Linked DNA regions of Homo sapiens: region 1 is linked to region 2. The links come from fine-mapping of genetic effects on gene expression. A gene starts in region 2. The other region holds a variant in brackets. All regions are shown on one strand. Distances are between the middles of the regions.

Region 1 (5,377 bases), 54 kb before region 2:
TTTAATTTTCCTAAAAAGAGGTGGAAACTACTTCTTTGTTAACTTTGTATAATGCAGTCTTGTCTACACCGGGTGCTCCAGGAAGGTGAGTTTAGGGGTCAAGCTTTGGTTTCATTTGGGCTATTTAGAAGACTGGCCGTATGTCTAAGTGTGAGTCAGAAACTGTCTTTGTGCCTTTATTGAATAAATGTCCTTACTCACAAGATCATCAGTCAGTGAAATGAATTGCAATACATTTCACTACAACACTCGATTTCAATGCTACATATTTTAGACCTACATTTCTACTAATCGATAATAGATCTAATTAAAATTAAAGCATTGATAATTTTTTAAAAAAACTGTACTAAGCTGGGTGTGGTGGCACACGCCTGTAATCCTAGCTACTTGGGACACCGACATGGGATAATCACTTGAGCCCAGGAGTTCCAAGTCCAGCATGGGCAATATAGCAAGACCCCATTATTAAAGAGAAAAAGAAAAAAAATCTCTACTAAGTATAATTATAGAGTAGAAGTTAGTGATTTTCAAAGCTGATTTTCAAACTAATGCACAAAGTAAATTTTGTATTTAAATTCTAATGCCTGTGTAAGCAGGCAGAAAGCATTAAAGAAAAATTGGGTAGCAGGGGGTCATGGGAGCTGGGAGATCAAAAATGGGCTGGAGGAGCAGCTAAATCTGCAGGTCTCAAAAGCACCACCATGATGGCAGATAAATATTACCGTATCTTCCCATTATCCACAAAAATCTGGGAATCTGGATTCTTATGTGAAATATCCCAATTTTTAAATATTAGCAACTAACAAAAAAAATTTAAATACTATGCAGACCAACTGATGGTCTCCATGTGCAATCTCAAATTTAAACCTTCTATTCAAACACAAATAAAGAACAAAGAAATTATGCTTTGAGGTATTGATTTAGACACTCCCTGTTGTTCAGTGTATTTTTTAGCAAAAAAAAGGTATGTGAATAAATATTTTTATTTGAACAACCTCCAGTCAATTATTAGAATACAATGATACCAAGAGACATTTACCTAACACAAAAAGGAAATCATATTTCAGTGAATATCAGTTCTCTGGCATTTGACATAAATGCCTTTAAACAATCTAAAACATATGCTTTTAAGCAGTACAACAAAATCTCTTAGAATTTTTAGCAGAAGATAGGAATTTTTATTTTTATGGCCTTACATCTTCCATATTTTATTATGGAAAAAACAATTTTCTCACATATACACTTACAAGCTTTTTACAGAGTAAGGCTAAACCTTACTTTTAAACCTTTACTTTAAAACTTGTAACTGTATTGCTCTTACCAATTTCTACTGATTTAATAAAATTAGCCAAAGAAAGCCAAACAAATGCTTTCAGTCTATAACAGCTCTCTTATTAAAAAACAGAAAAATTACATTTAAACTGTAAGTAACCAGACCTCATTCACATGAAGAAAGTTTCATGATTTTCAGGACTGCTACATCTAGCTCAATCTTTTTTCCACAACCTTGTAGCCTCCCATTCAGGAATTGGCAATCACGTCCTAGTATAAAATGAACTTTGAAAATAGCCAGCTTCCTGAAAATGACTGGAATTCAATTCACCATGGGAATTATTAGCAAGACTGGCTTATCATACTCAGAAACTTAGAAACATACAAAGGAAGTCAAGTCATGGTTTTTTTTTTTCCTTCCATAACCTTTATGAGAAATGCAGCGGTGACAAGCAAAAAGAAAGAAAGGAGAAGAAAGTTGGCTTTTTCTGGAGTAAGACACATCTGCTTAACAGTCTACAGTGAGGGGTGGAAATTCGATCTTGTGCTGATGGTCAAACAGACTGCATAAACATATGTCAGTGTCTACGGAATTCTCACATTCCACAGCTGCCTCTGGGAACCCTCAGAGAAAGAACATGCCCACGTAGATTGCACATCTGCTAGGGCATCTTTCTCCTTAACACCTATGTCTTCCCTTCACCCCCTAAAGAAAAGATTTACATTTTTTAAAATAAAAAAGGATGCTCAAAACTAACTTGAAAACCAACTGCATTTAATTGTAATATTTTGAGCCACAAAATGAAATTGAGTCCAATAAAAGGCAGGTGGACTGCTCTGGGTTTCTGAAAGAATTTTTTAAAAATCA[C/T]ATGCAAAGATTATTTCTCAATAGTGTCCCATCTCCGCTGAAGTCAATGTCAGCTAGAGGCCCTGCATTAAACAAGAGAGAGTCCACTCTCCTATCTTTCCCTCCACTTCCTTTCTTTCCCTTTCTGCCTTCCAATTTTGTTGACATTCTTGTCCTTCTTATTTTTATCTAATCTTCTGATTTTGTTGACATTCTTTCTTCTCCTGTCTAACTACTCATAATAGAGAAATCTTAACTTTCCCCAGGTCTTTAATCCTCCTGCCTAGCTTGGATTACTTGCAAACAATATGTAGGTATTATGCAACTCATGATGTTTAAGGTATTTGCAAACCAGTGGGGGTTTCAAAAGGAAGCCATTAAAATAGCTACCGTAAATCAAAAAGTTCAAGGCAAAGAAGCTTAAATTCTCATCAGAATTTAAAGTGAGAAAAAAAAATTCACACACTACTCTTATTTAAGCCTATTTATAATTTATACATAAATTCAATGTGCTATATGAAATCAAATTAGTTTTAGTTTTGTCACAATCTCAGTTGATCAATTTTGGTTTAATTATATTGAAATCTAAAATTACAATTTTCACATTAATGTTTTACTTGGGTGGGGAAAAAAATTGTTTTAACTGAATGTGTAGGAGGGTATAGAATCACAGCATGCATTTTTAAAAAGAATTTTCTAAATTAAAATATACTTAGAAAAAACATATATTGATTTGATAGGTCTGAGTTCTCAAGAATTAACAAAACGGTAGCTTTCATTTTATATATAAATGGAAGCCAAGTTTATTTTTTACTTTGTAGCTTTATTGTTGATATATTTTGGCATTTTCAACATAATGTAAATAACTCAATCAGCTGAGAGTGAACTATAACATGCATAACACATAACTATATGTAATGCAAATAAAAGTTCAATTTTGAAAAAGAAACCCATTGTAGTGGCTAGGCACGGTGGCTCACACCTGTAATCCTAGCACTTTGGGAGGTCGAGGAGGGCAGATCATTTGAGGCCAGGAGTTTGAGACCAGCCTGGCCAACATGGTGAAACCCCGTCTCTACTAAAAATACAAAAATCTGCCGGGCCTGGTGGCGCATGCTTGTAATCCCAGCTACTAGGAAGGCTGAGGCACAAGAATGACTTGAACCCGGGAGGCGGAGGTTGGAGTGAGCTGTGATAGCGCCACTGCACTCCAACCTGGGTGACACAGCGAGATTCTGTCTCAAAAAAACAAAGAAACCCAATATATTGGAAACCGATTATTACACATGTAAACACTTATTCAGGTAAATAAATAACTACATTCAATAAAGAATTTTCCTGAAATTATACTATATGTATTGACATCAAGTGAAAATTATTAACTTGTTAAATAAGTAATCATTCTAACTAGAAGCCCTAAGGGCAATATTTTCAGATGATGCTTTCACATCCGAGTCTCATCTTTGAGGTCCAGGGTGTATGGAGCGGGTAAACATGGCTGTGCAAGTGTCTAGACAAATGTGGCGTGTAAGTTTCAGGCTTACAGGAAACACACCAGGGATCCCTGGTGGGTTTGACAGGTTTCAGGGCTGTAACCGAGATTCTTCTGGTAGCTGAAAAAGAGGTAACTACCCCTATAACTAGGAGTCTGTGCATTCCTTAGAGTATATCAAATACAAAGCAGAGAGAGACAGGGACATTTGGAATGACCACTACTGACCTGATCCCAAACTGCCTCTCAAAATCAAATGTGAAAAAAATAGCAAGGATCAAATGATTTTTGGAGACACAGAGAAAGAGACAGACAGTGACAGAAAAATACAGAGAGGCAAGGAGAGACAGAAAAGGGAAGAAAAGAGAGAGAGAGAGGGAGAGAGAGATTGACAGGCAGAGATGCCCACACCCCAATGTCATGGAGACAAAACAAGTAACTCTCAGGCTAACCAACAATGCATGAAGTCAGCTAACACATTCACTTGGATCTTGTTTACACACATATATAGTTAAGGTCGATTATTCCACTATTATGAGCAAAAGTATGTCTTTGCTTAAATAGTCACTGCCCTGGAGTAAGTGGTAATGCATTGGCCTTTGTCTGTTGTGAAGATTTTTTTTGTCACTGTTCAAGTTTCAGTTAAGTTAATTCAATAGGTAATACCCGAGCCTGGTACATAATCAAAAGAGACAAAAAGCCCAGCTACAGCAAGAAATGAGTTTCCTTCCTTCCCCTCCACAACCCTCAATTTCCTTTCCAGAGGCAACCACTGTTGCCAGTTTCTTGTCAACCCTTTCACATCCCATCTGCTCTATAAAAATATGACCCAGTGCTTGTGTCTCCTTCCTGATCTTTTTTTTTTTTAACATAGTTACCATGTTCTACACATGGTCTGCAACCTGCTTTTTCACTTCATCTGTCATGGTGACTGGTATCAACAAATCCAGAGCTGCCCAGTCCTCTTCAATGGGTACACTGCATTCCAATGAGTGGTCACCCTAAGCCATACACATCTTATCAGACCCCTGCTGGTGGCCACACTTAAAGGCTTTCCTTCTTGGGTTTGCAGCTAGAACTCCAACTCACAGGACTTACTGTTTTCTGTTAAAATTCCTGAATATCACTTCCTTAGTAAAACTTGAAAAAAATCTTACGGCTACTGAGCACGTGTGGTGTTTGGAGAAACAACAAAGAGAATGCTGTTGGCCAACCCTTGCTGTGCCTTCATGTCATAGGCACATTGATTTCTGCTGCTGCATGAAACAGTGGCGGAATGAATGAGGAAATGTGGAACAATAACCAAGCAACATAACAAGGGAACACTGCTGTGGCGCACTCATCTTCAGATGAGCAATCTAATTTGGACTCGAAAAAACGTCATCTTAAAAGCAATGTATTTCTGATCTGCCAGTCAACTGGAAAACTTTTGAAAGCAGCAGACACTGCAGCAGAAATACCCTAAATCGTGAAGTGTGTTCCAGACTTAAGGGAGGGTAGCGGATTAACAGCACATAAAAGAAAAATGAGTTTATTATTAGAAAGTCAATTGCATTCTACAATATTTTCAAATTTCCAAATTCAGGGACTGCATCAGTCCATCAAGATTCCTTTGGACTCAACTAGCAAATCAACTTGCAGATCCATCTCTCTTTTCTGCATGCTGCCTGCCTGCAAATAGCTAATTAAGAGGAGTCTGCTGTGCTGGGAGGTAAGTCCTTTCTGCAGTCCAAGATTTCTCAGGATACCTTCAAGAGGAAAAAAAT
Region 2 (5,377 bases):
AATTCCCAACAAACGGTGCTGGGAAACCTGGCTAGCCATATGTAGAAAGCTGAAACTGGATCCCTTCCTTACACCTTATACAAAAATTAATTCAAGATGGATTAAAAACTTAAATGTTAGACCTAAAACCATAAAAACCCTAGAAGAAAACCTAGGCAATACCATTCAGGACATAGGCATGGGCAAGGACTTCATGTCTAAAACACCAAAAGCAATGGCAACAAAAGCCAAAATTGACAAATGGGATCTAATTAAACTAAAGAGCTTCTGCAGAGCAAAAGAAACTACCATCAGAGTGAACAGGCAACTTACAGAATCCAAGAAGTCCTTTATCTGATAAAAATTACCCCCGACTCAGCTTCCACTGTTTTAACAAAGTATCTTGACCCTTAACAAATCTCAGAAATAGCTCTTTGCTCCCTGAAAAACCTATTTCCTTTATATTTTAAACAGTACCAACTTGGTTTAAAGTTTTCAGCTTGTCCTCTGATGCATTTGTTCACCTCATTGTACTAAAACACAAAGAAACTGTCTCGTATAAAAATCAGAAGGAAGTTTAGAAATCAGAAAGAAGTTTAGAAAAGTTTAGAAATCAGAAGGAAGTTTAGAAAAAAATTATGGAACACATGAAAAAAAAAACAAGAATAAACTAAAGGGCACTGCTGAATAGACAGACAACAGCAACAGTAAGGGGGCTCTGGTCCCCCTTACTAACTCTGCCAAGATGACAGTTGTTTGAATTCTCCAACCCTTCTTCTGCTCCTCTGTCAAAGGAGGATTTCGCATAGGGTTCGCAGGCTAGCGATCTAATAGGTAAAGCACCTGGCACGCAGCTGGAAGGCTATCTGGGGTCTGTCTGCTTCTGCTAGCATCAATACTCTGAGCTCAACTCCACCGGGGCTCCTAGGATAACCGGGACAGAAAGGACGGTGAGAAAAGAAAAATGAGTAACATCACACAAGTTGAATCATATGAGGTTGACGATATTCACATCTTCCATCCAAAAAACCGACAATTTCTTATGATTCAACCCAACATATCGCAGCGGTTGTTCGTGTCGCATGAGTCTCGGGGGGCACTCAAGAACTACGATCGTGCACTTGCTTTCTTAACAAAGAACAGCTGCCGCCCTCAGGAACTCCAGCAAACCTTTCTCCAGAAAGGTCAGTCGCCTTAGCGGGCTCCAGGAGCAACCTGTTGCAGAATGAAGCCTGGGGCGCCGGCTTCCCCGCCCTTTACCTCCAAACCACCTCCAGGCCAAGCCCCCTCCAGGCCTAGCTCCCTTCTGGGCGGAAGCCTCTCGCGAGCTGCGGGACACAAAAGAATGAGCGGCGGGGCGGGCGCGGGAAGCCAAGAGACTCCAGGAATTCGCAGCCGCGCAGGGGAGGGGGTTGCCGGAGTAACTTGGCTGCTCTGAGCGCGTCGGCGCCAGTTCCCCGCCGCGGCCCCTGTTGGGCACCGATCGGGGGCGATCTTGCCAGAGAGAAGGGGTTCTGGAGCTAGTTCCTCCCTCCGATCCGACTCCCTGCCCCTCCAGACACGGGCTTTCGGGGAAACTGATCCCGAGCCTCTGACTTTCTACAGCCGTGAAGCTCCTGGTCTGTCCACGCTCCTCTTTGTTGTCCGGTCGGCGTGTTCTGGCAGGGTGCGCCTTGAGCACCCCAGTTCTCCATCTAGCGATAGCCGCGGGTCCCCGCGCATGCAAGCAGAAGGGCCGTGGAGCGAGAGGCTGGGAAGGTGCTTCAAGCCAGGGGTGCATGCTTTCTCCCACGGACGCGGGGAGATGGCCTCGCTTTGTACCCCCATATCCCTACTCCCGCTGTGGTCGGCTGCACAGTGTTGGCCCATTTCCGCACTCAGCCAGGGAAGCTCAGCGCCTCACGTCCCCGGGGCCATCCCTAGAGTTTCCTTTACCGCAGACTCGTTCCCAAGACCCTGGCGAGTCTCACCTCGGTCACCGTTCTCCCCGAGAGCGAGTCCGAAGTCTCTGGGGCCCCGGTCCAGTTCGCACACTCACCTCCGACTCCCGCTCCGGAACCACGGCCGCCGGCTACCCCCACCCCCGCCCCCATCCCCAGTGGATGGAAAGAAGACCCAAGCGGGGCGTCGCGGGCCACCACTCAGACTAAAAAGTTTGGGTTGGACGGGCACCGGCACCACCACGCTCTCCCCGCAGTTCCTCTGGCCCCCAGCCGCTGTCCGGGCCCGCACCACCTGCTGAGGGGCCAGGGAGGCGGCGCAGATGGCTAGGGTAAGGGGGGCGCAGAGCGAACCCGTCCACTCCTCACTGTACACCCCCAGTACAGTGGAAGGAGTGCGCTCAGCCCCGCGCCTGGTCAGCAGATGCCTCTCTCGCTCCGGGATGAGGACCCAGCTACTCACCGTGCACCCGGCTCCCGCTCCTGCTCCCGCCCTAGTCACCGCTGCCGCCGCCCTTCCCTTAGCTCGCCAGACCCTGGCTCGTGAATTATTTATGACCCGGCTTCTGGGACCACCGCGACGGCTTTCGGAGAGCCCGCCTCCCACTGCCGGCCGCGGAGGGGCTCAGGCGGCGCTGCGGCCGGACCCTCGGACGTGGCGGGAGGCAGGAGAAAGGCCCGGGTGCCCGGGGGGACCCGTTGCGGCTTCCTCTGTCCCGGACGGGGACCTAGGTATGGGGCCGCCGTAATGGAAAGGATTCCTTAAACATACTCACCGCGGCGGGAGAGCTGAGAGCATGGCCAGGTGCCGCGTGGGGATCTGCCTCAGTCACTTAAAGATCGCGAAACCCGAGCCCTGGACGCACTCTGATTGGACCGGCTGAGCTGCTTCGCCACGTAGCCCTGGGGCGCCCACCAGCACCTGGACAGCATCCATTTCCTGTAGAGGTGCCTGCTCAACCCCCTGCACTCCCTTCTTGCAACGCTTGCGCCTCTTTTCCCCCCGCAGAGTCCCTTACTTAGAATGCAGCTACCCTCCTAAAAACTCTCCTGTCTCATCCCGGCCGCATTAGACCCTTCTGTTGCCTAATCCCAATGCAATTTAAAACAAAACAAAACAAAACAAAACAAAACAAAAAACAAAAAAACAATCATTTGGATCCTTAGTGTGCAGCAGTACCAATGCTAGTGGCTGAAGCGGTTGAAAAACAGCATAAAGCCATATTCGCTCCCATGTGTACACACAGGCATCTGCTATAACGTGAAGCCACTGCAACTTCTTTTCTCACTGCCTATTGGTCTTCCCGCTCTGTGAGTTACAACTCAACCTCGGAGTCTTCACCTTGCTACTTAGCTGAGTGGTGGAAACCTGTCAGAAGTAATCACTCGGTGTCTAAGTGTCCTCACCAATTTGCACTTCACTCTTATTCACCACTTCTTATCTTGAATTGAGAATACTGTACTCTCCGGCAGGCAAAAAAAAGACTTAGGGAAGAAATGCACCTTCAGGATGGTGTCTAGCATACAGCAGGTGTTTAATACATGTTTGTGATATGGATAGACAGATGAAAGGATGGATGCACAAGCTACAAATGAATGATAGACAGGAACATTAAGTCAGTACCTTTTTCTTTTTACCCCAGAATCTAACATAAAACAGGTACTGGAAAATAAGCATTTTTTGTTTTTAATAGTTAGATTGATCTTGAGTGTGTATATTTCTAGACAAGAAATGTTAGTTCAGAAAACTTCCAAAAAGTACAGTAGGACATGGCAAGGTTAGATGGTTTGGCTCTGTGTCCCCATCCAAATCTCATATTGAATTATAATTCACTGGGAGAGGGACCTAGTGGGAGGTGATTGGATTATGAGGGCGGATTTCTCCCTTGCTGTTCTCATGATAGTGAGTGAGTTCTCAGGATATCTGATGATTTAAAAGTGTGTGGCACTTCCCCTTTGCTCGCTCTGTCTCTCCTTCTGCCATGTGAAGATGTGCTTGCTTTCCCTTCTTCCACCATAATTGTAAGTTTCCTGAAGCCTCTCTGGCCATGCCTACGGTACAGCCTCTGAAACCCAGTCTCAGGTAGTTCTTTATAGCAATGTGAGATCAAACTAATATGGGTGGAAAACAAATCTCTTCTAATCAGGGCAGATTTCCCCTCTGCAGCCCCTGCAGGTCAGAAGTTTCTGGTTGAACATCTGCTGGGGTCCCATAAACCTTCTCCTAGATAGCACTTTTAGGCTGGAGCTAGCAAAAGAGGTGATTTCTCAAAGGAGTGGGTCCTGATCTCCGTCAAAGTTTGGTCCCGCCTCTTTTAATCGCTGTGACTTTGGCTGCTTAATATTTCTCTGAGCCTCAGTTTCCTGGTCTGCAAAATGAAGACAATTATAACTCACAGGGCTCATTTTCATTCCTAATAATATCAACAACAATAGTATCAGTAGAAAGGGGTGAAGCAAGATGGTCAAATAGAAGGTTTGACCACCCACCCCCCACCCCGGCTAGGAACACAATTTAACTGCTATCTACACACACAAAAAGCACCTTTATAAGAACCAAAAATCAGGTGAGTAACCACAATACCTGGTTTTAATTTCATATTACTGAAAGAGGCACTGAAGAAGCCAGGAAAGACAGTTTTGATTTGCCAATGCCGCCAGTCCTCCATCCCCCAGCAGCAGCAGCCTTGTGGCTTGGGAAAGGGAGAGTGCAGTGATTGGGAGACTTTGAATTGAACTCAGTACTGCTCTGTCATAGCAGAAAGCAAAACTAGGCTGAACTCAGCCAATTTCCCTCAGAGGAAATAGCCCATACCAGTGGTGAAAACTTGAGTTTCAGTAAAGTGCTCTGGGGCCCCAAATAACCTTAAAGGCAGCCTAGGCCACAAGGACAGCAACTCCTAAGCAAGCCCAAATGCTGAGCTCAGAGCCAGTAGACTTGGAGGGCATGCGACTTACTGAGACACCAGACAGGGGAGCTAAGGGAGTGCTTGTGACACCCCTACCCCAACCCCAGGTAGTGCTGTTAGTGGCTCTTCATCACTGCATGCCCTTTTCTAGCACTCATGCCTCTTTTACCCCAGCAGAGCTCTCTACTTGGAATGCAGCTACCCTCCTAAAAATGCTCCTCTCTCAAAAACTCTCAGCCACATTAGACCCTTCTGTTGCCTAATCCCAATGCAGTTAAAAAAACAAAACAAAAATAATCATTTGGATCCTTAGTGTCTGCATCAGTCCCAATGCTAGTGGCTGGAGTGATTAAAAACAGCACGAAGAGACCCATTCCTTCTGCTTGAAGAGAAGAGGGGGAAGAGTAAAGAGGACTTTGTTATCTTGAATATCAGTTTAGCCACAGTAGGACAGGGCATCAGTCTGAGTCATCAGACCCCCATCCCAGGTCCTAACTTGTGGATAACATTTCTAGACACATCCTGGGCCAGAAGGGAAACTGCTGCCTT

Alleles and levels. Positions count from the first base shown, and alleles are read on the strand shown. Sizes are in standard deviations (SD) of each study's normalised expression.
As copies of C replace T in region 1, the expression in left ventricle of the gene that starts at base 2,741 in region 2 goes up (small effect, 0.40 SD a copy in GTEx).

The links. PIP is the estimated chance that this variant, and not a neighbour inherited with it, causes the effect.
Region 1: its variant is fine-mapped to the expression of PROM1 in left ventricle (GTEx, PIP 0.94).

What each region holds. Positions count from the first base shown.
Region 1 is chr4:16,027,685-16,033,061 of GRCh38, forward strand. All of the region lies in intron 5 of PROM1 (prominin 1), which reads right to left. Among named protein-coding and RNA genes, the nearest start is that of PROM1, 54 kb to the right of the region's middle. The variant C/T (reference allele first, on the strand shown) is at 2,141.
Region 2 is chr4:16,081,283-16,086,659 of GRCh38, forward strand. It overlaps PROM1 (prominin 1), which reads right to left and starts at 2,741. Exons shown (of 28, transcript NM_006017.3): 1 at 2,696-2,741.